Linked DNA regions of Homo sapiens. Changing the gene in region 5 together with the main gene of any one other region gives a genetic interaction. Each region holds a gene or a part of one and is shown on either strand. Other genes may lie near its edges. The genes, in order: MRPL22, PSMD1, CDC40, NUP43, MFAP1, CKAP5 and CDK1.

The links.
Region 1: changes in MFAP1 (region 5) and MRPL22 together harm fitness more than expected from each alone (negative genetic interaction), as found in Homo sapiens cells (one large-scale study listed by BioGRID).
Region 2: changes in MFAP1 (region 5) and PSMD1 together harm fitness less than expected from each alone (positive genetic interaction), as found in Homo sapiens cells (one large-scale study listed by BioGRID).
Region 3: changes in MFAP1 (region 5) and CDC40 together harm fitness more than expected from each alone (negative genetic interaction), as found in Homo sapiens cells (one large-scale study listed by BioGRID).
Region 4: changes in MFAP1 (region 5) and NUP43 together harm fitness more than expected from each alone (negative genetic interaction), as found in Homo sapiens cells (one large-scale study listed by BioGRID).
Region 6: changes in MFAP1 (region 5) and CKAP5 together harm fitness more than expected from each alone (negative genetic interaction), as found in Homo sapiens cells (one large-scale study listed by BioGRID).
Region 7: changes in MFAP1 (region 5) and CDK1 together harm fitness more than expected from each alone (negative genetic interaction), as found in Homo sapiens cells (one large-scale study listed by BioGRID).

The regions. Positions count from the first base shown.
Region 1 is NC_000005.10:154,954,573-154,958,072, forward strand, and holds part of MRPL22 (large ribosomal subunit protein uL22m), read left to right. Parts: intron 1-1,798; coding exon 1,799-1,864; intron 1,865-2,562; coding exon 2,563-2,640; intron 2,641-3,500.
Region 2 is NC_000002.12:231,066,867-231,070,366, reverse strand, and holds part of PSMD1 (26S proteasome non-ATPase regulatory subunit 1), read right to left. Parts: intron 3,462-3,500; coding exon 3,256-3,461; intron 343-3,255; coding exon 199-342; intron 1-198. UniProt on the Homo sapiens protein: Component of the 26S proteasome, a multiprotein complex involved in the ATP-dependent degradation of ubiquitinated proteins.
Region 3 is NC_000006.12:110,186,927-110,190,426, reverse strand, and holds part of CDC40 (pre-mRNA-processing factor 17), read right to left. Parts: intron 1-3,500. UniProt on the Homo sapiens protein: Required for pre-mRNA splicing as component of the activated spliceosome. Plays an important role in embryonic brain development; this function does not require proline isomerization.
Region 4 is NC_000006.12:149,733,030-149,736,529, forward strand, and holds part of NUP43 (nucleoporin Nup43), read right to left. Parts: coding exon 3,442-3,500; intron 1-3,441. UniProt on the Homo sapiens protein: Component of the Nup107-160 subcomplex of the nuclear pore complex (NPC). The Nup107-160 subcomplex is required for the assembly of a functional NPC.
Region 5 is NC_000015.10:43,814,691-43,818,190, reverse strand, and holds part of MFAP1 (microfibrillar-associated protein 1), read left to right. Parts: intron 1-742; coding exon 743-962; intron 963-3,116; coding exon 3,117-3,246; intron 3,247-3,500. UniProt on the Homo sapiens protein: Involved in pre-mRNA splicing as a component of the spliceosome.
Region 6 is NC_000011.10:46,794,281-46,797,780, reverse strand, and holds part of CKAP5 (cytoskeleton-associated protein 5), read left to right. Parts: intron 1-840; coding exon 841-969; intron 970-2,004; coding exon 2,005-2,187; intron 2,188-3,500. UniProt on the Homo sapiens protein: Binds to the plus end of microtubules and regulates microtubule dynamics and microtubule organization. Acts as a processive microtubule polymerase. Promotes cytoplasmic microtubule nucleation and elongation. Plays a major role in organizing spindle poles.
Region 7 is NC_000010.11:60,788,478-60,791,914, reverse strand, and holds part of CDK1 (cyclin-dependent kinase 1), read right to left. Parts: intron 26-3,437; coding exon 1-25. UniProt on the Homo sapiens protein: Plays a key role in the control of the eukaryotic cell cycle by modulating the centrosome cycle as well as mitotic onset; promotes G2-M transition via association with multiple interphase cyclins.

The DNA.
Region 1 (3,500 bases), on a different chromosome or scaffold from region 5:
CTTAGACATTTCACCTGCCCAAAGTAAATGCTGAGGTTTTTTTTCAGTTTTGGAAGAGGATGATTAACTTTTGCCTTTCTTGTAAACACTTCTTCCTTTTTGCCATCCTCTGGTCAGGATTACCATTGTTTATATGTGTAAAATTTGAGGGTAATCATACAAAATTAAGGTTTAAAATTATCCCACCACAAGAATGCACAAATTAAAGGGTCTCTTCTTTTTTATTTTTATTTTTTTGAGACGGAGTCTCGCTCTGTCGCCCAGGCTGGAGTGCAGTGGCGCAATCTCAGCTCACTACAAGCTCCACCTCCCGGGTTCATGGCATTCTCCCGCCTCAGCCTCCCGGGTAGCTGGGACCACAGGCGCCGGCCACCATGCCCGGCTAATTTTTTTTTTTTGTATTTTTAGTAGAGACGGGGTTTCACCATTCACAGGATGGTCTCGATCTCCTGACCTTGTGATCCGGCCGCCTCGGCCTCCCAAAGTGCTGGGATTACAGGCTGAGCCACTGCTCCCGGCCAAGGGTCTCTTCTATATGAAAGATTTCATTGAGTGGATTAATTTTTGCAGATTATTATTATCAGTCATGATAGTTCTTTCCTCTCCCTGTCTCCCCAAGAAACTTTATTGCTGAAAATGTAATTAGGCTATTGCTATAGTTTCAGGCTGTCTGCTTCTATTGCAACTGAAATCTGCCACATATTAAAAGATGGCCACTTGAGAAAACTGCTCTTTCTAAGGCATTTGAAAATTTCCAGCAGGAGTCAGAATGTTAGAAAGTTTTGAGACCTCCTTGCTATAGTTTTCCATAACACATGTTTTCTAATTTTTTTTTAAATGGCAGTTTGGTATAGTAGTGGAAAGAAAGTGGGTTTTAGAGTCAATAGAGGAACTTTTGAAAGTAGATGTGCTAGACATTGTATCAGGTGTATCATACTTCTCTGTTCTTTGAATTCCAACTTTGTCTCTTGCAAACCTCTGGTCTTAGACAAGTCACTTGATTTCTCTGATTTTCAGTTTATATGTAAAATGTTTCATCCCTCAACTCATAGAGTTAGACTAAATGAAATAATGAGTGAAAAGTGCTTTTTGAACTATACATTGTAATTAAACAGGACATACCTACAACTTTAAATAGAAGATAATAAAAGCTAACATTTACTGAGAAGTTACCATGTGCCAAGCACTATAAAATGGTTTCTTGAAATAGGTTACTTTATTTCCCTCTAATTATCGTTTTATTTATTTTACAGAAGAGGAAAATTAGAGAGAGGTTAAGTAGCTTGCTCAAGATTATGTAGCTAGTAAATGGCAGAGTTAGGATTCAAATCCAGGCAGGCAGTCTGATTCTAGAACCTATGCTGTTGGCCAAACACCTAGAATATTGGCTTTTCACATGAAAACACTTGTCCATTTTGCCATTTTTCTCCTCATTAATAATGAACGTTTTCTTGTACTTTTTCTTTTGTTCTTTTAATCAGCTAAATGTTTTAAAGATACTTTCATTTAAATCTTTTAGGATTTCTTTGGATAGAAATGTTGCAAGTGTTGACACAAACCAGCCATTGTATAGTTTCTATTTCTCCCGTAGTAATCTTTTAACATAGTGAGACTTTGGAAAAATACAACTTTGTGTAGGGGAAAATAATCTCTAAATTCTTAGTAATGTTTCTATTTCTTATGGCAGCATTTTCTTTAGGCCTAGAAAGTAAAAACTTAAATAACAGTATATGTTATTGTCATTTTGTGGTAAACCTGCTAACATTTTCTTTCTGTCCTTTTTTTTCCAATTTGTAAGGAAATCTACCACTGTCGAAGACAAATAAAATATAGCAAAGACAAGATGTGGTATTTGGCAAAATTGGTAAGCTGCAATGACTATTACCATATAATTAATAATTTAGGAAAGAAGCTATGAGTTCCCCTCCCCACCCCTCACCCCAGGATTTGAAAAATAAAAAAGATTTGTGAGGAATGTGATATAATTGGTAGGTTGTCAAAAGAATGATTGTTCAGAGATGTATGATTTTCCTTAATTTTCACCTTTTTCTGAGAAACTAAATCACATTGGATAGATAGATACTAAAAGGCATCAGGAGTTTGGCTATAACCAGAGAATCCAGGAAACCCACCTATTTATCTGTAAACTTGATTCAACCTGTTTTAAAACTGTTGCTTTTAAGTTTTTTTCCCTAGGAAATGAAATTTATAGATGAGGGGAGACTGAAGCAGCAAATATACATGTAATACATTTATCCTATAGGAGAAGGAGATGCCTTGAATGCCTAGTGTGGTTGTTACCAACCTGTGGTCTCTCTGTCATGTTTGCTGTCTTTTAATGTTATTGAAACTATTATAATCTCAGTTTTATGGTTAAAATGTTTGTTTCATTTTGACTGAAAGAGAATAGTGTCTCCTCTCAAACTTGTTTTCTTCTCTTTTATTTGGGTTCAATTCACTGTTTTTAGAAGTTACTCAAATTATGTAAGACTTTCATTGAAAAGGAAACATTGACTTTGTAAACTAATTTATTTTCTTTTGTCTCTCACCCTTTAATTCTAGATACGAGGAATGTCTATTGACCAGGCTTTGGCTCAGTTGGAATTCAATGACAAAAAAGGGGCCAAAATAATTAAAGAGGTAAACTTACAAGTTTGGGTGTGGTAGGGAATGGGGAACTGGGGAATGCAGCTGTCTTGCAATTATTAGTAAGCTTAGCCTAAATCATGAATTCCCTAAATTTTCTGTTGTAAATGCATACTTTATATAATACAGATTTAGGGTTCTCAGTTTATTAAATATGTGTATACTTTAGGAATGTTGTGTGCTTTAGGGTTTATTTCCTGAGGTGCTTTTATTTCCACCAAATATTTATCTGTTTTTTACTGCTTATGATGTGATGAATCTTATTTTTAATGATTTGGGGCTTGGTACGTATATGTGTGTATTTGTGTGTATGTATGTGTGTTTGTGTATATAATTTATTTCTTGGAGCAAGGCTGAACTTCAAGGTATATTTTTTTGAAGATTTTTTTTTTCCTATAAAGGAGAGTTTTTATAACTAAGTAATTTTGTAACTAAATGGAAAGAGCCCTGGACTGGAACTCAAGAGACTTGGACTCTAGTCCTTTCTCTGATCTTTTTCTTGTGACCGTGGGCAAGACACTTAACCAGTCAGTTTCTATTTTTCTCACCTAAACTATGTGGAATTGGATTAGATGACCCCTAAAGATCCTTCCAACTCTAAATGTAGCTAATTCACTAGATACAAATGTGCTGATGGTAATTGTGGTGACTCTTTCTAGGAACATGAATATTCTTTTTTTATTACATATATTTTTCTTTTTTTTTTTTTTTTTTTTGAGACGGAGTCTAGCTCTGTTGCACAGGCTGGGGTGCAGTGGCGCCATCTTGGCTCACTGCAGTCTCCGCCTCCTGCGTTCAAGCGATTCTTCTGCCTCAGCCTCCCGAGTAGCTGGGACTACAGCTGCGCGCCACCA
Region 2 (3,500 bases), on a different chromosome or scaffold from region 5:
AGTGTTGTGAGATTTAGTTTCTTATTAATAAAAAGGAATATAAAGCACATACCTTATTTTCACAGGGCTGCTGTGAAGATCAGCTGAGATACATGTATAAAGCCATTATAGTAATATAAAGTAATAAAATGTGAAGTGGTATAGCATAGCACAGTACAGCGTGGAGCAATGTAATGAAACATAATTTAATGTCATTACCTGACAAACATTGATGAAATCAGGTTTCTCCAAGTTCATGTAGATTTTAACTAGAACTCTTAGTACTTTATTCCGAAACTGTTTATTCTGCATTAAAGACATGCAGAGCTTAAGGCTATAAGCTAACATTCCTGGGACATCATTCTGAAAGAGATAGTTTAAAGATATAACGTTATCTGGTTATTGCAGCATTATATTTATTTAGAAATTGAATTATTTTAATCTTGCTTCTTTAGCCAATCTAGGAAGCCAATTATTTAGACCTCTTAAGCAATACAAACTCAAGAATTTTAAACCATTTTAGATGAAAATCTTAAAAGAATTACATATTTCCACATCATCATAAAAAATGGATTAAAAATAATATTTAGTGGTACTCAGAATCACTATTACATGAACATAGTATACTATAATAAAGTGATGCTGTTAATTATTATAAAAGATATACAACTGTCCATACACTAAGTAGCTATGTTTTCCAAATGTGTCTGCTGAAGTCTTTCTGCTTCTTATCTTGCTACTAGACTCCCTCATGACTTACTGCCTACACTCACTTGCTGGCCAGGAAACACAACACAGCTCTCAGTGACTCAAGCATTGAGTACTGCCACATCTGTCTGGTGCTCTCCCTACAAGAAAACTTTGATCCAGGCTCTATGTGTTTACTTGGTGATTCTCAAAAGTATCCCCAATATTTGAGACTTCACCCTGTAAAAGGCCTTCAACATAAATTAGCACACTGAAAGCTACAGGAGTGTTTCTCAAAAAGTGAGTTGTGACTTTCCACTGCGTAATAAAATCAATTTAATGAAGTGTGACTAGCAAATTAAAAAAATAAAAAATACAATTTAAAAATAACAGAGTTATATCACAAGTAGTAAGAGTAGGTATTAGTTTCATAAAGCTTAAATTACATCTATATGTATATGTGCACTGGGATACAAAGAAAGATGCATTTGTTACTCTGCTTTTTTTTTTTTAAAACATTTTTCATTCTTTTACTTTATATATTTATTTGTTTGACTGCTTGTTCTCCTTCTAGATTCCCCAATGAAGTGTTTGCTTTGGGCAGGAACTTTGTTGGTCTTGTTTGCTACTATAGTAGGTGCTCCTTTATCTGAGAGGACTATGTTCCAGCACCCCCAGCAGATGCCTGAAACCACAAACAGTACCAAACTCTATATAAATTATGCACAAATTTCTGTTTTCTTCTTCACAATTTTATGGATGGAAGATTCATTCTTATGTACATCTCAGCGCAGCCTCAGCACAATTTTTTTTCTTTCCTTATTAAGTTGGGAATTTTCACTTTTTCAATTAAAGGAAGCAGTTTAAGGCTTCTCTTTAGCATATCTAAATTGCCAACATCACTATTTTTGTACTTTGAGGCCATTACTGAGTAGAATAAGGGTTATCTGAACACAAGCACTGTGATATTGCGACAGTCAATCTGATAAGCAAGGTGGCCACTAAAGTGACTAATAGGCAGTGTACACAGCATAGATCTACTAGGATGATTCACATCCCATGCGGGATGGAAAGAGATGGTGAGAGATTTCGTTGTGCTAGTCAGAATGGTGCACAATTTAAGACATGAATTGTTTATTTCCGGAATTTTCTATTTAATATTTTCAGTCTGTAGTTGACTGCAGGTAACTGAAACCACAGAGAGCAAAACCATGGATGAATGGGGACAATGCACATCTCCAATGCCTAGAACAGTATCTGGCAAACAGTAAGCACTGAAAAAATATTTGTTGAATAAATGAAAGCCAAAAATGTAATCTTACACACACGAAGACAAGGATGGGCTAAAACTGCACAAAAATGAAATTGAGAGGGAAACAAGGGCCATTATATCACATTAGGCCATTCATTCATTCACTCATTTAAACAAATCGTATTATCGACGCTAAACACTGTGTTAGGTTTTGGGGATACAGTGGTGAAAAAGGCACAAATACCTGTCCCGATATAGCTTATGATCTAGTGGGAAAGACAGCTATTAACTATCTACTAATACAATTATCAAGGGATAAACACCATGAAAAAATGTACAGGGCTCCATAAGATTAACAACAGAACTGGACCTAGTCTTTGCTTAGGGGCTGAGGAAGGCATGGGTATTGGGATCAAAGTTCTGCAAACAAGGGATAGTTGAGCTAAGTTTTGGATTGTGAGGAGAAATAAAGCAGGCAAAGAAAGGAATGGAGGGCAGGTGTGGTGGCTCATGCCTATAATCCCAGCACTTTGGGCGGCTGAGACGGGTGGATCACTTGAGGTCAGGAGTTTGAGACCAGCTTGGTCAACATGATGAAACCCCAACTCTACTAAAAATACAAAAATTAGCTGGGTGTGGTGGCACACGCCTGTAATCCCAGCTATTCAGGAAGCTGAGATGGGAGGATTGCTTGAACCCCGGAGGCAGAGGTTTCAGTGAGCCAAGATTGCGCCACCGCACTCCAGCCTGGTTGACAGAGCGAGACTCCATCTCAAAAAAAAAAGAAAGAAAAAAGAAATGTAAAAAATATTTTTGGAAGGGGGAACGAGGCAGGGTTCATCTAGATGAGAAGATACCAAAATGGCTAGTGTACAGAGAGCTAGCTCATGGAAAGAAATAGCTGGTGAGGCAAAGTAAGCCTGCAGATCAATGTCCATTTTACTCAGCTTTGTACCTTTCTGACCACTTCGGTTGGTGACTTAAATTGTCTTAATTATTGCAAACACCGCAAACCAGGAATCTAGCTGAGTAGTTTTAACCCTAATAAATGCATTAAAATATAGTTTATTGTCTTCTTAAAAAGGGCAGAGTAATTAATACAACTTCCCCATGCAAGACTTCAAAGGATTATGTGGTAAGATAAAAGCAGATATTTCATGAACACAAAACACAACCAAGGTTCATACATAAATATGAAAATAAAATATTTGGCAAAAGATCACCTGCTATTTCTAAACTAGATTTTCTTTTCACTGCCTATGAAAGTTTCAGTTTGAATAACTTGCTTTGCTGATTCCCTATCAACAATAATTTCTAAAATAACATCATCTACCTACCGACTCCAGTATGGTCTTTTCAAAGACGTCCAGTCTTCGTGTCTCCAGAGCAATGCCAATAGCCTGTTTATACTTGTGATCATCTAGACATCGCTGGAACATTTTATTTACGATGCCTTCCAATCTCTGGTCAATTGGTTTTTTTTCTCCTTCAGGCAAATCTGCATTTTCCACACATTGTTTGGTGTAGTGATCAATGCATTTTGCTGTTGAGGAAATAAAATAACTGATTATCTTGTAAATTG
Region 3 (3,500 bases), on a different chromosome or scaffold from region 5:
TGGCCTAGTTAGGGCTTCATTATATCTTGCCTGGCCTATTGTAATACTTCCTTATCTGCTTTAATACACCCTCACTTTTGTCATATTAGACTAATTGCTGATTTTTAAAAATAGCAAGCACTTTGATGCTTTCTGTGCTGTAGGCAATGTTACCGCCTTGTACCTTAGGCAATGCCTTTATTATTTTATGCCGCCTTCTTATTTTTCCTGATACCTTCCCTCCTCCTGCCTCAGGAAAACTGTTGGGTTTTTGTTTGTGGTCCTAAAAAAATGCTGTACTCTATTTGATAGTACTTGTGATATATTATTTGTTGCACATGGCTTTTATGTACATCATATATCCTCACTGCCCAGTAGAACGCAGGGCATTCAGCACATATTCAATAAATATTTGTTAAATTAAATTGAAGACAGAAAAGCCAAATCTGTAGAGAAATTAAGTAGGATAAGGCTGACCAACAATCATTGGATTTGGCAATTATGTCACAAAAAACCTTTGTGAGAGTGACTGTTAGTAAGGACTATGGAAAGCCAGCTGCAAGAGGCAGAGGTGTAAATGAGGATCTAGAAAAACACCACCATATAAATCTGTACTGAAAATATTTGGTGGTAAAAAACAGAACAGATGGGGTGTCAGGTTGAAGGATTTTCAGGGTCAAGTTTTTCTTCTTCCTTAAGAAGAGACTAAGTCAAAGATGTGGTCAATCGTAGGCTAGAAGGCAGGTGATGGCAGGGAGAGACACATGACAAAAAGGACCAGATAAAGGTACAGTTGCCCTAGAAGAGGTAGGAGGGAATAAAATTCAGGACACAGTTGGAAGATTAGCCTCTGAAAAGAGGAGTGCTCTCTTTGGGATGAAATAGAGATGACAAAGGTAAGAATGGGTGATAGATGACAGATGTTTGGAGGTGTTGGGAATCATAATTGATCCTTTTATTTTCTTGGTGTAGTCAGGGTACAGGCAAATTTATAAAGCAAGCATGGAGCTCCAGATTCATATATTCATTCAACAGATTTTGATTGTGTGCCTACTATGTGCCAGGCACTGTCCTGGGCCCACAGAAATAGACAAAGATACCTGCCCTTGTGGAGTTTATATTCTAGTGGAGGAGACAGACAATAGACTATATAATATATAAATAAGTTTACAGCTCTCTAGAAGAGGCTAAATAATATGAAAAAAAAGAATTTAACAACACTAACATGCTAGCACCAGAGCAGACACACTATTTCATATAATCTGTGAGGTTAAGTGTTAGCAGGATTAAGTCACTTAACCCAAGCTACTAATAGAATAAATGGGAAGGGGAAGAGCTCAAAGTAACCACAATGAACAATGTTAAAGAGATCTAACTAGTGACAAATTAAAAAATCACTGGCAGAGTAACTAGGTGTATCAGTCAGGGTTCTTAGTTGCAAGCAGCAGGCTGATTCAGCATTATAAAATCCTTATGAGTTTCTCTTAGAATTACCAGGAAGTGTGGAGAATCAGCTTTGACAAGTAGGCAGAAATAAAGGGTCAGTATACACTTAATAGATGAAATCACAATTCAAAATTAATCATCACAGAACCCATCCAGTGAGGATAATTGTTTACCATGACTGAACACCACTACTAAACTGCTATGGCTACCACTGGATGCTGCTATTGAAACTGCTGGCCTGAGAAACTAGAAAACATTGACCATCATTGCCAGTTTAAGTCCTCTTTCCTGGCTTCTTTGTGGATAAATTTCAGATTAGAAAGCTTAGGTTGGTACATCTGTTTGGCTGAGCCCAACAGATACACCCACCCAACAGTCCTGAGCCTCAGCTGAAAGGGAGCTGAATTAGAATAATCTGGGTTTTCAGCTTCTGAAGATGGGTGATGAACAGGGATGTTCTTCAAATTAAGACCCTTAAGAAAGGGGTTTCAAATGCTAGGCCATTGAAAAGATGACAAATATTATCTATATCACCCTAGAATGAACACTAGAATCTTTACTGATGAAAGATACTATCTTGCACATGGCCCAATAGCAAACTCAGTACTATAAAGTTAACAGGTTACATACAAATTGTTTAAACTGCATAAAAGCTAAATTAAATGCTTTTCCCGCTTAATATTCAACCCCTAGTGACAAACTGCTTAAAATAACATGAGGCTTAGCCACATTCATATCTTCCCAAAGGATTTTATAGTGTATAGTTGCTAGAACCACTTTATAATATGGGATATGAGATCTTTCCAATTAAGGGTATTTAAAATATTCCAAATTGAAATTATTTTGAAGAGTATCATGACACATCAATTTTTAAATGCAAAGTACAATTTAAGAAATTACTGTTTATATAAGCAACACTGGCAGCCAATAAAAAATATAAGTAAGTCCCAGTCTCTGACTCCTGCTAAAATTATAGAACAAATTGAACAACTCTCAAGAAAACGAAGGGCTGTTATTTTACAGAAATTTAATTAGAAAACTTGGACAATACCACAACCTTGTTTTAATACCCATGAGGCATTCAATACCAATTAGGTATGCAATTGGAATTACCACAGAATAACAAATTATTTCTATTCAGTTTCAATTATCCACAAAAATTAAAATGCAGTAAGTGAAGGGCACCCTGTGGGTCAAATAAGTTTAAATAGTTTATCTTTTTGTTGATTCAAAGTAATTTGAGAATAAAACTGGGTAATATTCACTTTTCAGTCTTTTCCACATTTCTTCCTGTGCCCAAATAAGAAAAGAGACATAAAAACACCATGTAAACTGTAAAGCAGATCACAAATATTATTATTATAAGTTACTTATCAATTTATGGCATAGTTTTTTTTCCTCCCAGAAAACAGAAATGACTAAACTTCCTAATAGAAGAATTTAGGTGAATGATATAAAAGAACAGAACTTCAGATAAAGATATCCTCTGAGTTTGGCCCTTAACAGATTGCAGAGGGAAAAGGTCGTCCATTTGAAGCTCACAAATATAGGAAATACCACACATGAAAAAACTGAAAAATATGCCTCAAAATTAGAGGCAGAATTTTTATTTTACTTTAGTTGGCTATGCTAAGGCAAAGAATACATTCGGGGGAAGTAACATAGTCACTGGTTGAAATGAGAGAAAGCCAGATCTGCTTTTGTTTTTGTAACCTTAAAGTCACTTAATAACCAACTCTTGCAATCCAATAGGGTCCACTGCATGATTTCTAAAGTGCAAAACCTTACAATGTTGCATGTAAAAATTTTTATTGGCTAACATGGTGAAACCCCGTCTCTACTAAAAATACAAAAAATTAGCCAGGCGTGGTGGCGGGTGCCTGTAGTCCCAGCTACTAGGGAGGCTGAGGCAGGAAAATGGTGTAAGCCCAGGAGGCAGAGCTTGCAGTGAGCGGAGATTGCGCCACTCAACTCCAGCCTGGGAGACAGCGAGACTCCGTCTCAAAGAAAAAAAAAAATTTTATCCAGAAAATACTCATTGTCATACATATACTGGAGAACACAAATATGTGTAA
Region 4 (3,500 bases), on a different chromosome or scaffold from region 5:
GGTGTGTGCCCAGCTAGGAATGACTGTCTTTTACGGAAAAGTTTTTTTTTAAATTGGTAAGTTGTCTTATTTTTCAATTCCTGTGTCATTAATATATGAAGATTATATTATTGGAAAAACTGAGAAAGATCCTAATGAAATATAAAAATGAATTTCTAAGAGGCAATATCCAATATTGGTTAATGCCAAGATTCTGAATACTTCTGGTCTTTATCACAGAAATAGCAACTGACTTCTACCAAACCAAAATTTGGAAATGTTCCAAGAATTTGGATCCAGTCTCAGATGGAGGGCTTTTTATTTTTTATTTGTTGATTATTTATCAAGAAAAACTATTTCTTAGCCCACATATGTATGCTTCATACTTTAGGAACATAGGTCAGTGACAAACTTCTACATAATTCAACTCAAAGAAATTCTCTCTCTCTTTTTGAAACAGGGTCTTGCTCTGGCGCCCAGGCTGGAGTGCAGAATGGCATGGTCATGGCTCACTGCAGCCTTGACCTCCAAGGCTTAAGCAATCCGCCTATCTCAGCCTCCTGAGTAGCTAGGACTACAGGTATGTATCACCATACCTGGCTAACTTTTGTATTTTTAACAGACATGGGGTTTCTCCATGTTGCCCAGGCTGGTCTCAAACAACTGGGCTCAAGAGATCTGTTTGCCTTGGACTCCCAAAGTGCTAAAATTACAGGCATGAACTACCGTGCCCAGCCCCAAAGAAATTCTATATATTCCAAAATCACTTTCAATTCTGAAAGATACCAGTCTTCCTCATTTCCTCAAAATCTGTTTTGTTTTGTTTTTTTTTTGAGACGGAGTTTCACTCTTGTTGCCCAGGCTGGAGTGCAATGGTGCGATCTTGGCTCACCACAACCTCTGCCTCCCAGGTTCAAGTGACTGTCCTGCCTCTGCCTCCCTAGTAGCTGGGATTACAGGCATGTGCCACCACGCCCGGCTAATTTTGTATTTTTAGTAGCGACGGGCTTTCTCCATGTTGGTCAGGCTGGTCTCGAACTCCTGACCTCAGGTGATCCACCTGCCTCGGCCTCCCAAAGTGCTGGGATTACAAGCATAAGCCACCGCCCCCGGCCATCATTTCCTCAAAATCTTTTATGGAATCATAATTTCTATAGAAATCTAATAATAAAAAAAATTAGCTAGGTGTAGTGGCATATACCTGTAGTCCCAGCTACTCAGAAGGGCAAGGCAAGAGGATCACTTGACCCCAGGAGGTTGAGGCTTAAGTGAGGTACCATGCCACTGCACTCCAGCCTGGGCAACATATTGAGACCCTGTCTCTACAAAAAATAAAAAATTAGCCGGGTGTAGTAGGGGTGCGTGCCTGTAGCCTCAGCTACTCGGGAGGCTGAGGTGGGAGGACTGATTGAGCCAGGGAGGCAAGGCTGAGGCTGCAGTGGGCTGTGATCATGCCACTGCATTCCAACCTGGGTGAGAGAGACCCCATTTTTAAAAAAATATATAGGGCCGGGCGCAGTGGCTCACACCTGTAATCCCAGCACTTTGGGATGCCAAGGCAGGCAGATAACCTGAGGTCAGGAGTTTGAGACCAGCCTGGCCAACATGGTGAAACCCCATTCCTACTAAAAATACAAAAATTAGCTAGGCATGGTGGCAAATGCCTTTAGTCCCAGCTACTAGGGAGGCTGAGGCAGAAGAATGGCTTGAACCCAGGAGGCAGAGGTTTCAGTGAACCGCGATTGTGCCACTGCACTCCAGCCTGGGCGACAGAACAAGACTCTGTCTCAAAAAAAAAAAAAAAAAAGGATAATCCATTCTGGCATGATATCAAAGACAGAGTGAGAAAATGAAAAATTTCTGTCCGGCTAAATCATCTCCACCAGAATCAAAAGAAAAAAAAAAGCTTATAAATCTATTGTTCATGTTAAAAAAAATGATGTGATGCAACAATAAATTGAGGAGCACAACATTTATTAACAAATATGACAGCCTGCATTTGCATGGGAAAAGGGCATTCTTGCACACTTCACTATGGCATATAAAATGGTATGATTTTTATCACTTTTCAGGGAGTGGGGTCTCACTATATTGTCCAGGCTGGAGTGCATAGGTGCAATCATAATGCACTACAGCCTTGAATTCCTGGACTCAAGCAATCCTCCTGCCTCGGCCTCCTGAGAAGCTGGTGCATGCCACTCACCTGGATTAAACTAGTATTATTAACTTTTTAAAGAGGTTATGTTGCCTAAGCTGGCCTCAAACTCTCAGGCTCAAGCAATCTTCCTGCCTCAGGCTCCTGAGTAGGAGGAGCCTGGAACTACAGGCATGTGCCAATGTGCCTGGCTTAAACTGGTATTATTTTTGTGTAGAAAAATCTGTCAATGCGCTATGCAAAATGTTTGGCCTAGCAATTCTACTTCTAAAAAATTATCCTAAGAAAATAAGTACATAAGGCTGGGCATGGGCATAATGGCTATGCCCAGCACTTTGGGAGAATCGTGTAAGTCCAGGAGTTCAAGGCTGCAATGAGCTATGATCACACCACTACTGCACTCTGGCCTAGGCAACAGAGAGAGACCCTGTCTCCAAAAAAAAAAAAAAAAAAAAAACACACACAGAGATAAATATCTAAGGATTCTAACTACAGTTTTGGATATAAGAATTAAACCTGTGGTTGATGTGGTGGCTCATAACTCATACCTGTAATCTCAGCACTTCCTGAGGATCACTTGAGCCCAGGAGTTTGAGACCAGCCTGGGCAATAAAGTGAAACCCCATATCTACAAAAAAAAAAACAAACAACAACAAAAAATCAGCTAGGCATGGTGACACACACCTATAGTCCTATCTACTTGGGAGGCTGATGCGGGAGGATCACCTGAGCCCTGGAAGTCAAGGCTGTAGTGAGCCGTGACTGCACCACTGCACTCCAGCCTGGGCGACAGAACCAGACCCTGTCTCTTTAAAAAAAAAAAAAAAAAAAAAACCAGGCACGGCGGCTCATGCCTGTAATCCCAGCACTTTAGGAGGCCGAGCTGGGCAGATCACCTCAGGTCAGGAGTTCAAGACCAGCCTGACCAACATGGAGAAACCCAGTCTCTACTAAAAATATAAAATTAGCCAGGTGTGGTGGTGCATGCCTGTAATCCCAGCTACTCGGGAGGCTGAGGCAGGAGAATCGCTTGAACCCAGGAGGCAGAGGTTGCGGTGGGCCAAGATAGCGCCATTGCACTCCAGCCTGGGCAACAAGGGTGAATCTCCGTCTCCAAAAAAACAAAAACAAATGTTAAAGAACTTAAATGTCGAGTAAAAAGAAATTACATAACTATTTAAATTTACACAATTCAGCCATTAAAAGCTATGATGTAAAATGATCCACATGTATCATTATGGAAAGGTGCTTATTATATGTCATATAACTCACCCAATATAAACTTTCTGTATCTTCACAATACTTACTTTCAGCTTCATGAGCCTTCAGCAGAGATACAGGCATAGTACCTTGTCTAACATCCCAA
Region 5 (3,500 bases):
AAAATTAGCTGGGCATGGTGGCATGCGTCTGTAGTCCCAGCTACTCAGGAAGCTGAGGCAGAAGAATCACTTGAACCCGGGAGGCGGAGGTTGCAGTGAGCCGAGACCACGCCACTGCACTCCAGCCTGGGCGACAGAGCGAGACTCCGTCTCAAAAAAAAAAAAAAAAAAAGAATTGTATTTGTAAGAGATTACATACTCTTGCATGTTTGATAACACATAAGGTAAAGGAAAAGAAGGTAGAAATAGGTAAGATTAGAATATTGAGTCATGTGGCAGTATGTTATAAAGGCTGCCATGGAAATTCCAGAGGGAACTACAAGAATGCCTGAGCAGTTTTATGTTCCTGCAGAAATTACCCTTACTATGTGCTGGGCACTGTTACAAATAATTTGTTTAAGGGTATAGTTGAGGTGGGATACCATGAATTTGTGATGGATGCAGTCTGCCTTTTTGGGGGGGGACTTTTTTCTACTGTTTCACTGCCTACCTTCCTCTACTTCATTGTACTCAAGGTAAGCCTCATTATCATCAGTGTTGGCTTTCACAAGGATGCAGTCTCATGACTTGGCCTTTGTAGGAAAACACCATTAGAAGAGTAGATGGTTGGGTAGTGGCTCTCTTCTTCTTCTGCTTAGACTCTTGTCTACTATGAATAAAGGGCTCTATTTGCAAAGGCCGTGATGGGTTGAAGCACATTGAGAAAGAGGCTACTGAAACATAAGTTACCTTTCTCGCCCAGGTGAGATTTCAATGGAAAAAGTGAAGGTAAAGCGTTATGTGTCCGGAAAAAGGCCAGACTATGCCCCTATGGAGTCCTCAGATGAGGAGGATGAAGAATTTCAGTTCATTAAGAAAGCCAAAGAACAAGAAGCAGAGCCTGAGGAACAGGAGGAGGATTCATCCAGTGACCCCCGGCTACGGCGTTTACAGAACCGTATTAGTGAAGATGTGGAAGAGAGGTAATGTCTGTGATTGTGTTTACTTGAACATGAACCTCTACAGCTTAATAATAATAATAATAGCTAATACTTGAATAGTACTACCAAGTAGATTACATTTGCTAATTCTTGTAATCCATACAATAACTTTATGAAATAGGTGCTATTATCCCCATTTCACAAAAGGAGGAAACTAAGAGCACAAAGGGGCTAAGAAAGTTACATGACCAAAGCTACAAAGTGGCAGCTTCAGGAAACAGCAGGTTACTTCTGGCCTAAAGGACCTACTCAACTCCTTATGGGAATAGAAAACACAGACCATTTGTTGGCTGTTGAGAGGAGTCTTTTTAGCACAAAGATGTTTTATAAACTTTGGTAAATTGATTTTATACATCTACTTATTCTAAATGCTAATAAGGGGAAATGACACTGAAGTAGGAGAAAAGACCTTATAAAGGTCTCATGGTAGAAAGAGAGCCTCCCAGTGAGGGATTTTGTATGTTATATATTGATGGAGACATTACTTTATAGAGTAGGCCAGGAGTCCTGAACTTTCACCGTTCATAATTGTCCCAGGAGTTTTTTCACAGAGCTCCTGGGCCAAAACAGTTCTGTTTATTTTAGTTATTAAGTAGTTAGAGCCAAGTAACTTAATAAGTATTTATGTCCTAATAACTTTGCCACTTGAAGATTAACAGTGCCCATGGCCAGGTGCGGTGGCTCACGCCTGTAATCCTAGCACTTTGGGAGGCTGAGGCGGGTGGATCACGAGGTCAGGAGTTCAAGACCAGCCTGGCCAACTTGGTAAAACCCCATCTCTACTAAAAATACAAAAAAATTAGCCAGGCCTGGTGGCGGGCACCTGTAATCCCAGCTACTTGGGAGGCTGAGGCAGAGAATTGCTTGAACCTGGCAGGCAGAGATTGCAGTGAGCCGAGATCACGCCACTGCACTCCAGCCTGGGTGACAAAGCGAGACTCCATCTCAAAAAAAAAAAAAGAAAAGAAAAAAGAAAAAAAAATAAAATTACAGTGCCCAGGGGGGAAAAAACACTTTTATTCATTCTCACATAACCATAGTTACTAGTGGAATTTGTTTGCCTGTTGGACACTGACAGCCTTTCAAACCTTGGAATCAGCACTGTCACTTTTTCATGTCTTGTTTTATATTGATTTTCATACTATACTTTCTTTTACTTTTTATCACAGCAGCCACCAAAACCCAGTTTCACAAAGACACGATATTCTCGAAAGGAATGTAGTGTGACTTAATGTTGAAAGTGAATTATCTTGAGCTATTAAAAATATTCCAATGCAGGCCAGGCTCAGTGACTCATGCCTGTAATCCCAGCACTTTGGGAGGCCTAGGCAGGCGGATCACCTGAGGTCAGGAGTTCAAGACTAGCCTGGCCAATATGGCGAAACTCCATCTCTACTAAAAATAAAAAAATTAGCTGGGTGTGGTGGTGCATGCCTGTAATCCCAGCTACTCGGGAGGCTGAGGCAGGGATTATCACTTGAACCTGGGAGGTGGAGGTTGTGGTGAGCCAAGATCATGCCCTTGCACTTCAGCCTGGGTGACAGAGTGAGATTCTGTCTCAAAAAAAAAAAAATCCCAATGCATCCCTATGAGTTTGCTGGCTTGCTGTGGTGCCCCAGGATGCCTCAACATACATTTAGTATTTCAGGCCCAACTTGACTATTCGCTCTGACATCCTAGTTTAGTTTCTTTAATCTGCACCTCAGTTTCCTCCACCTCAATACTTTAATACTGGATGGACATGGTGGCTCACACCTATAATCCCAGCACTTTGAGAGGCTGAGGTGGGCAGATTGCCTAAGTCCAGGAGTTCAAGACCAGCCTGGGCAACATGGTAAAACCCCGTCTCTACAAAAAATACAAATATTAGCCAGGTGTGGTGGCACGCCTATAGTCCCAGCTACTCAGGAGGCTGAGGTGGGAGGATCACTTGAGTCTGGGAGGCAGAGGTGGCAGTGAGCCAAGATCGCACCACTGCACTGCAGCCTGGGCGACAGAGCAAGACCCTGCCTCAAAAAAAAAAAAACTTCAGTATTAATGAAGGCAAACATAATGTGCTCTGTGGCTATGGAAATGCAGTTGATGCTACTTCATTTTTATGACATTGGTGTTACATTTGGAGATACTGTTTTTCAGATTGGCTCGACATCGAAAAATAGTGGAACCTGAAGTGGTAGGAGAGAGTGACTCAGAAGTAGAAGGAGATGCTTGGCGCATGGAACGAGAAGACAGCAGTGAAGAAGAGGAGGAGGAAATTGATGATGAGGTATGATAAAGGAACATGGGAAGTTTTTTTCTGGATATAAGAAAAAGTTCATGCCAGTGCTCATTTGTTGAAGCCTTAAAAACATGAGATCACTGCTTTGGCAGGACTCTGATCATGTTCCTTGTTTGTGGGGATAGGATTAAAAATAGAATGATACTAAGTTGTATCTTTTTACATTTGAATTTGTTGTGTTTGATGAGACGAACAAAAAGCCATAGGCCATTTGACTGACTGGCTTATATATATGACTTGAT
Region 6 (3,500 bases), on a different chromosome or scaffold from region 5:
GGAATATTTTATACCTAGGCAAGATTCTTTTCCTGCAAATTATGTACAGTGACTACTTGACTTTCAGACTATAGAGGTTATGATCTTTTGAGGAGCAGAGCCTTTGCAGCTTGGAAACTGAATCCAAATTCTCCTGTGTTCCTCTTCTTGAAAGAAAGCACAAGTTAGTGTTATGATTCCATTAACTGTTAAACATGTTGTTTCTTACTTGTCCCATATACTGGTGTTCAGCTGAATCTGGCCAAGCATAGGCATCAAATGTGGAGTATTTGAAGATCATTTGGGAGTGAGTTATTTTAGATAGAGGGTAAGAGGAAAAGGAAATACTTATTTGCTAAATGGATTACCAAGGGTTTCCTTAACCCGAAAAATTTTTGTTTTTTTTTTTTTGTTGTTGTTGTTTTTGTTTTGTTTGAGATGGAGTTTAGCTCTGTTGCCCAGGCTGGAGTGCAGTGACACAATCTTGGCTCACTGCAGCCTCTGCCTCCTAGGCTCAAGCAATTCTCCTGCCTCAGCCTCCTGAGTAGCTGGGATTATAGGCATGTGCCACCACGCCCGGCTAGTTTTTGTATTTTAGTAGAGATGGGGTTTCACCATGTTTGCCAGACTGGTCTCGAACTTGGCCTCCCAAAGTGCTGGGATTACAGGCATGAACCACTGTGCCTGGCCCAAAAAGAATTTTTGAAAGAGTAACTGTCAATTGGCACAAGGAAAGCTATACTTAGTTCCAGTAAATTGTAAAAAGCAAATTCTTTATCTAGCAACCATCAGTCTGAATTAAAATGAGTAATGCCTAAAATACCTTGCATTAATATCATTTTGCTTACTTCTGGACTATAGCACATCAATGATTCTGCTCCTGAAGTCAGAGATGCCGCATTTGAAGCATTGGGTACTGCTTTGAAGGTGGTTGGCGAGAAAGCAGTAAACCCATTCCTAGCTGATGTGGACAAACTCAAGCTTGATAAGGTAGGTTAGTAATGGATTGGACTGAAATTGGACAACATTCCTGTCTCTTTGCATCATGGCTTTGTCTCTTGACAGTTATAGAGTACTGGTAGTTTTGATGAGGAGTTCTTGATTTTTTTTAAATTGCCATTTATAGTAGGAAAGAAATGCATAATTGAAACAAGTTTTGGAGGATGCTCTCTGGTACTTTTTGTCTTCAATTTTGTCTGTTGTTTTATTAAGAAAAAAATGCTGATATCACCTCAGGAAATTTATTTCATCCTCCACTGATAGTTCAGACCGAGTTTGAAAACTTAGCTTTTGAGAATTTAAGTTTCATTCCAGGCTATGATGGTGATAATTGTAGAAATAGCTTTCAAATTATAACCGAAAAAAAGCTGAGTGACCAATCTGTAGAGAAGGTGAAAACAGTTCTGTGAGATAAATTTATTTCTAAGGTCCAGAAAATTACCTTCTTATATGTGAATGTCTTCCATAAACAATGTGGTCATTTTAAGTTTATTACAATTCTAATTTGTAAAGAAATAAAATGTAAGATTAATATCTTACGTATGTCTATCTACTGCCAAAAAAGTGTAGATAATTTATCTTTTTTGTTGAAAGGGAAATTTTTTCTCTGAAAATTTTTTTTTTTTTTTTTTTTTTTTGGCAATGAATCTCACTCTGTCACCCAGGCTGGAGTGCAGTGGCACAATCTCAGCTTACTGCAACCTCTGCCTTCTGAGTTCAAATGATTTTCGTGCCTCAGCCTCCCAAGTAGCTGGGATTACAGGCGCCTGCCACCACGCCCGGCTAAACTTTTTTATTTTTAGTAGAGATGGGGTTTCACCATGTTGGCCAGGCTGGTCTCAAACCTCTGACCTCAAGTGATCCACCCATCTCGGCCTTCCAAAGTGCTAGGATTATAGGTGTGAGCCACCTTGCCTGGCCATTTCTCTGAATTCTTATGTGTAGTTGTGGTTTAGAAATGTAATAACGTAGTGGTTGTGTTTCAAAGTTGGGCTTAATGATGTTCATCTCACTTTCATTCTCCAGATCAAAGAATGTTCAGAAAAGGTAGAACTGATACATGGTAAGAAAGCTGGACTAGCTGCTGATAAGAAGGAATTCAAACCTCTGCCTGGAAGGACTGCTGCTTCAGGGGCTGCAGGAGATAAGGACACAAAGGACATTTCTGCACCCAAACCAGGACCTCTAAAAAAGGCACCTGCTGCTAAGGTTAATAGATTATTTAAAAATAGAAGTTAGTAAGGAAGGGTCTGAGTCTCAGGTTCGTGGTTGTTCCTCTAAAATTATTTTGTTTGAGAAATGAATTCATTGGCCACATTAAAAATACAGCAGAAAATCTGTTAATGAAGATAGGATATTCCAGCAATAAATTCAGCTGTTTGGAGCTTTAATAGAGATAAAAATGGTGATGAAGGCACAGAAGTGTGTTTTGTCAATTTAACATAAAATTTACTATCTTAACTTTTTTTTTTTTTGAGATGGAGTCTCGCTCTGTTGCCCAGGCTGGAGTGCAGTGATGCAATCTTGGCTCACTGCAACCTCCGCCTCCCAGGTTCAAGTGATCCTCCTGCCTTAGCCCCCCAGTAGCTGGAATTACAGGCACGTGCCACCATGCCAGGCTAATTTTTGTATTTTTAGTAGAGATGGGAATTTGCCATGTTGGCCAGGTTGGTCTTGAACTCCTGACCTCAGGTGATCCACCCGCCTTGACCTCCCAAAGTGCTGAGATTACAGGCGTGAGCCACCGTGCCTGGTCTGTCTTAACTTTTTAATGTGCAGTTCATTAATATTAAGTATGTTTATAATGTTGTGCAGCATCACCACAATCCATTGCCGTAATGCTTTTCATGTTTTAACACTGAAACTCTATGAATCAATTAACTATCCTCCCATTCTCAGCTTCTTCCAGCCCCTTCTTTCTGTTTCTATGAATTTGACTACTTTGTTTTTATTTTCTATATTTTTTAGAGACAAGGTCTTGCTCTGTTGTCCAAGCTGGAGGGCAGTGGTGCGATTATAGCTCACTGCAACCTGGAACTCCCAGGCTCAAGTGATCCTCCTCACTCAGCCTCCCAAGTAGCTAGGATGACAGGGACTTGCCACCATACCCAGCTTATTTTTAAAAATTTTTTATAGAGGGCCTCGCTGTGTTGCCCAAGCTAGTCTTGAACTCCTGGCCTCAAGTGATCCTCCTGCCTTGGCCTCCCAAAGTGCTGAGGTTACAGGCATGAGCCACCAAGCCTGGCCTTGAGCATCTTTTCATGTGCAGGTGGCAATCTGTAGTTGTATAGTTCTTCTTGGAAAAAAATATCTACTCAAGTTCTTTGCCCATTTTTGAATTGGGTTGTTTTGAGGCAAGGTCTCACTCTGTTCCCCAGGCTGGAGTGCAATGGCACAATCACAGCATACCTCCCAGGCTCAAGCAATCCTCCCACCTCAGCCTTTTGAGTAGCTGGGACCAGAAGCACGTGCCACCACACACAGCTGATTTTTTATTTTTTAATATTTTTGTAGAGACGGGT
Region 7 (3,437 bases), on a different chromosome or scaffold from region 5:
GAGATCTGTACCAGAGTGTTACTACCTATTAAAAAGCAAATTTTTACAATGAATAAATGTGGTGCATAAAATTACCTACACTTAAACATTTATATTTTTATTAGGGCTGTCCTTTAAAGGTTGTATGACTGCCACCAATAATATTGTTTAAGTCAATTAAAGGTACACAAAATTGAAGATAAATATTTCATTTCTAAGTTCTATTCATTAGAAGACAAAACAGATAAAAGCATAATAAATATTTTTTTGCTTTTCAAATCACTAAAGATCAAGACAGTTATACAGCCTTATCTTCCCCCCACTGAAAAACCAAACCCATTGATAATAGATTTGGGGTGACACTGAACAAAGTGCAGGTACTGCTTACTTGCTAAGATGGTACTAACAGTACCATTATAACATGAATAAGAAACATGAGAAAGAAATAAAGGGCATCCAAATTGCCAAGGAAGAAGTCAAATTGTCCCTGTGTGCAGAGATGATCTTATATATAGAAAAACTTAAAAGACTCCACCAAAAACTCTTAGAACTGATTAACAAAGTTGCAGTATACAAAATCAAAATCAGCATACAAAAATTAATAGTTTCTATACACCAATAACTAGCTGAAAAATAACATCAAGAAAGCAATCTAATGTACAATAGGTACAAAAAACCTAGGAATAAATTTAACAAATGAGATGTATAATCTCTACACTAAAAACTATAAAACATTGAAGAAAAAAATTTAGGAAGATACAAAAAAGACATCCCATGTTCATGAACTGGAAGAATTAATATAAAAATGACCATATTACCACCCAATGCAATCTACAAATTCAGTGCAATCTCCATCAAAATACCAAGGACATTCTTCACAGAAATAAAAAGAAATCCTAAAATTCATATAGAACCAAAAAAGACCCACAATAGCTAAACCAATCTTGAGCAAAAACAACAAAGCTGAAGGCATCGTATCACCTGACTTCAAAAATGTATTACAAAGCTATAGTAACCGAAACATCATGATATTAGTATAAAAAAGGACGCAGAGACCAACAGAACAAAATAGAGAATCCAGAAATAAATCCATGTATTTACAGTCAACTCATTTTTGAGAAAGATGACAAGAACATTCACTAGGGAAAAGCCAATCTCTTCAATAAATGGTGCTGGAAAAACTGGATAATCCACATGCAGAACAATGAAACTAAACCCCTATATCTAACCATACACAAAAATCAACTCAAAATGGATTAAATAAGACCTTAAACTATGAAACTATTGGAAGAAAACAGAGGAAACACTGTTATTGATATTGATCTGGACAAAAATCATATGGATAAGACCTCAAAAGCTCAAGAAACAAAATCAAAAATAGACAAATGAGGCCAGGTGCAGCAGCTCATGCCTATAATCCCAACACTTTGGGAGGCCAAAGCGGGAGGATTGCATGAGCCCAGGAGTTCGAGAACAGTCTGGGAAATATGCTGACAGCCCCGTCTCTAAAAAATTTAAAAATCAGCCTAGCATGGTGGTGCATGCCTGTGTATGGGCCCAATTACTCAGGAGGCTGACGTGGAAGGATCACTGGAGCCCAGGAGGTTGAGGTTGCAGTGAGCCCTGTTCACGCCACTGCATTCCAGCATGGGTGACAGAGAAAGACCCTGTCTCAGCAATAACAAATAGACAAACAGGATTATATCGAACTAAAAAGCTTCTGCACAGCAAAAGAAACAGAATGAACAGAATAACAGAATAATGCAACAATCTGCAGAATGGGAGAAATTATTTGCAAATCATTCATACAACAAAGAATTAACATCCAGAATAAAAAAAATAGTAAGAATCCAATTTTAAAAATGGTCAAACAATCTGAATAAAACTTTCTCAAAAGACATACAAAGACCAGCAAGTATATGAAAAAGTGCTCAACATCACTATTCATCAGGGAAATGCAAATCAAAACCACAATGAGCTATCACACCCAGTTAGAGTAATTATCATCAAAAGACAAAAAATAAGTGCTGATAAGGATGCAGAGAAAGGGCAACTTTTTACGCACTGTTGGTGGGCTCTTAAATTAGTAGAGCCATTATGAAAAACTGTTTAGAGGATGCTCAAAAAACTACAAACTAGAACTACCATATAATTTTGCAATCCCACTGCTGGGGGTATATGTCCAAAATAAATAAAATCAATTATGTCAAAGAGATATCTGCACTCCCATGTTTATTGAAGCACTATTCACAATAGTCAAGATACAGAATCGACCTGTTTCCATCAACAGATAATGTGGTGTATACATACACACATACAGAAAATGTAGTGTACACACACATACGTGCACGCAATGGAATACTAGAATACTACTCAGCCATAAAAAAAGAATGAAATTCTGTCATTTATGACAACAAGGATGAGCCATGAAATAAGCCAGGCACAGAAGGATAAATACCACATGTTTTCACTCATATTTGAAAACGTAAAAAGTTGATCTAATGGCCATAGAGTGGAATAGTGGTTATTCAGGGCTTAGTAGAGGAAGACAGAGATAAGTTGGTTTATGGATACAATTACAGCTCAAAAGGAAAAATAAGCTCTAGTGTTCTACAGCACTGTAAGCTGACTACAGTTACCAATAATTTACTGTAAATTTTCAAATAGCCCAAACAAAGAATTTTGAATGTTCCCAACAAAAAGAAATAATAAATGCTTGGGGCAATGGATATGCTAACTACCCCAATTTAATCAATACACATTGCATACATGTATCCAAATACCACACTGTACCCCATAAATATGTATAATAATGCGTCGATAAAAAATGATTTTTAAATTATTTAAAAAACGTGAATAAGTCAAATAACAGATTAGTGATCTAGAACTAACCAACCATTTTAGTATATTTATCATATGGTAAAAATATTGCCTGTTAGAACAAAGCTAATGAGGTCAATAGCATTTGTTTAAGACAAAGAAAACAAAATAATCTTAGTTTATTTATATAGCCATGTAAAAAAATGATAAAGACTAACAAGCAGCCAAGACATCTAATCAGATGAGCACTGTTACTAGTTTTGATCTGGAGACAGTCTTTGGGTCAAGGGTAGACAACTCCACAGAAGACAGCCTTTCAATAATCCTTTATTATACAATGTTCCCTTTCCTTCAGAAACACTAAATGCCAAGTCAGCAATATAACACAGATCAAACATAAATTATAGTTAGCAATTCCTAAATGTATCAGAAATAATATACCTTAAGGAACAAAACCTGTCTTTGAATCAATCTGACTATAATCAGGGAGGGTTCAGTCAGGAGACAGAAACCAAGGTGGTGATTTGAATGGGGAGAGTTTAATATAAAGAATTAAAGTACAACAAAGGATGGGAATGATGTAAATAAATAAAGTAAAAAATAATGAAAATGTAAAAACTGTAGCTAGGAAAACTCCT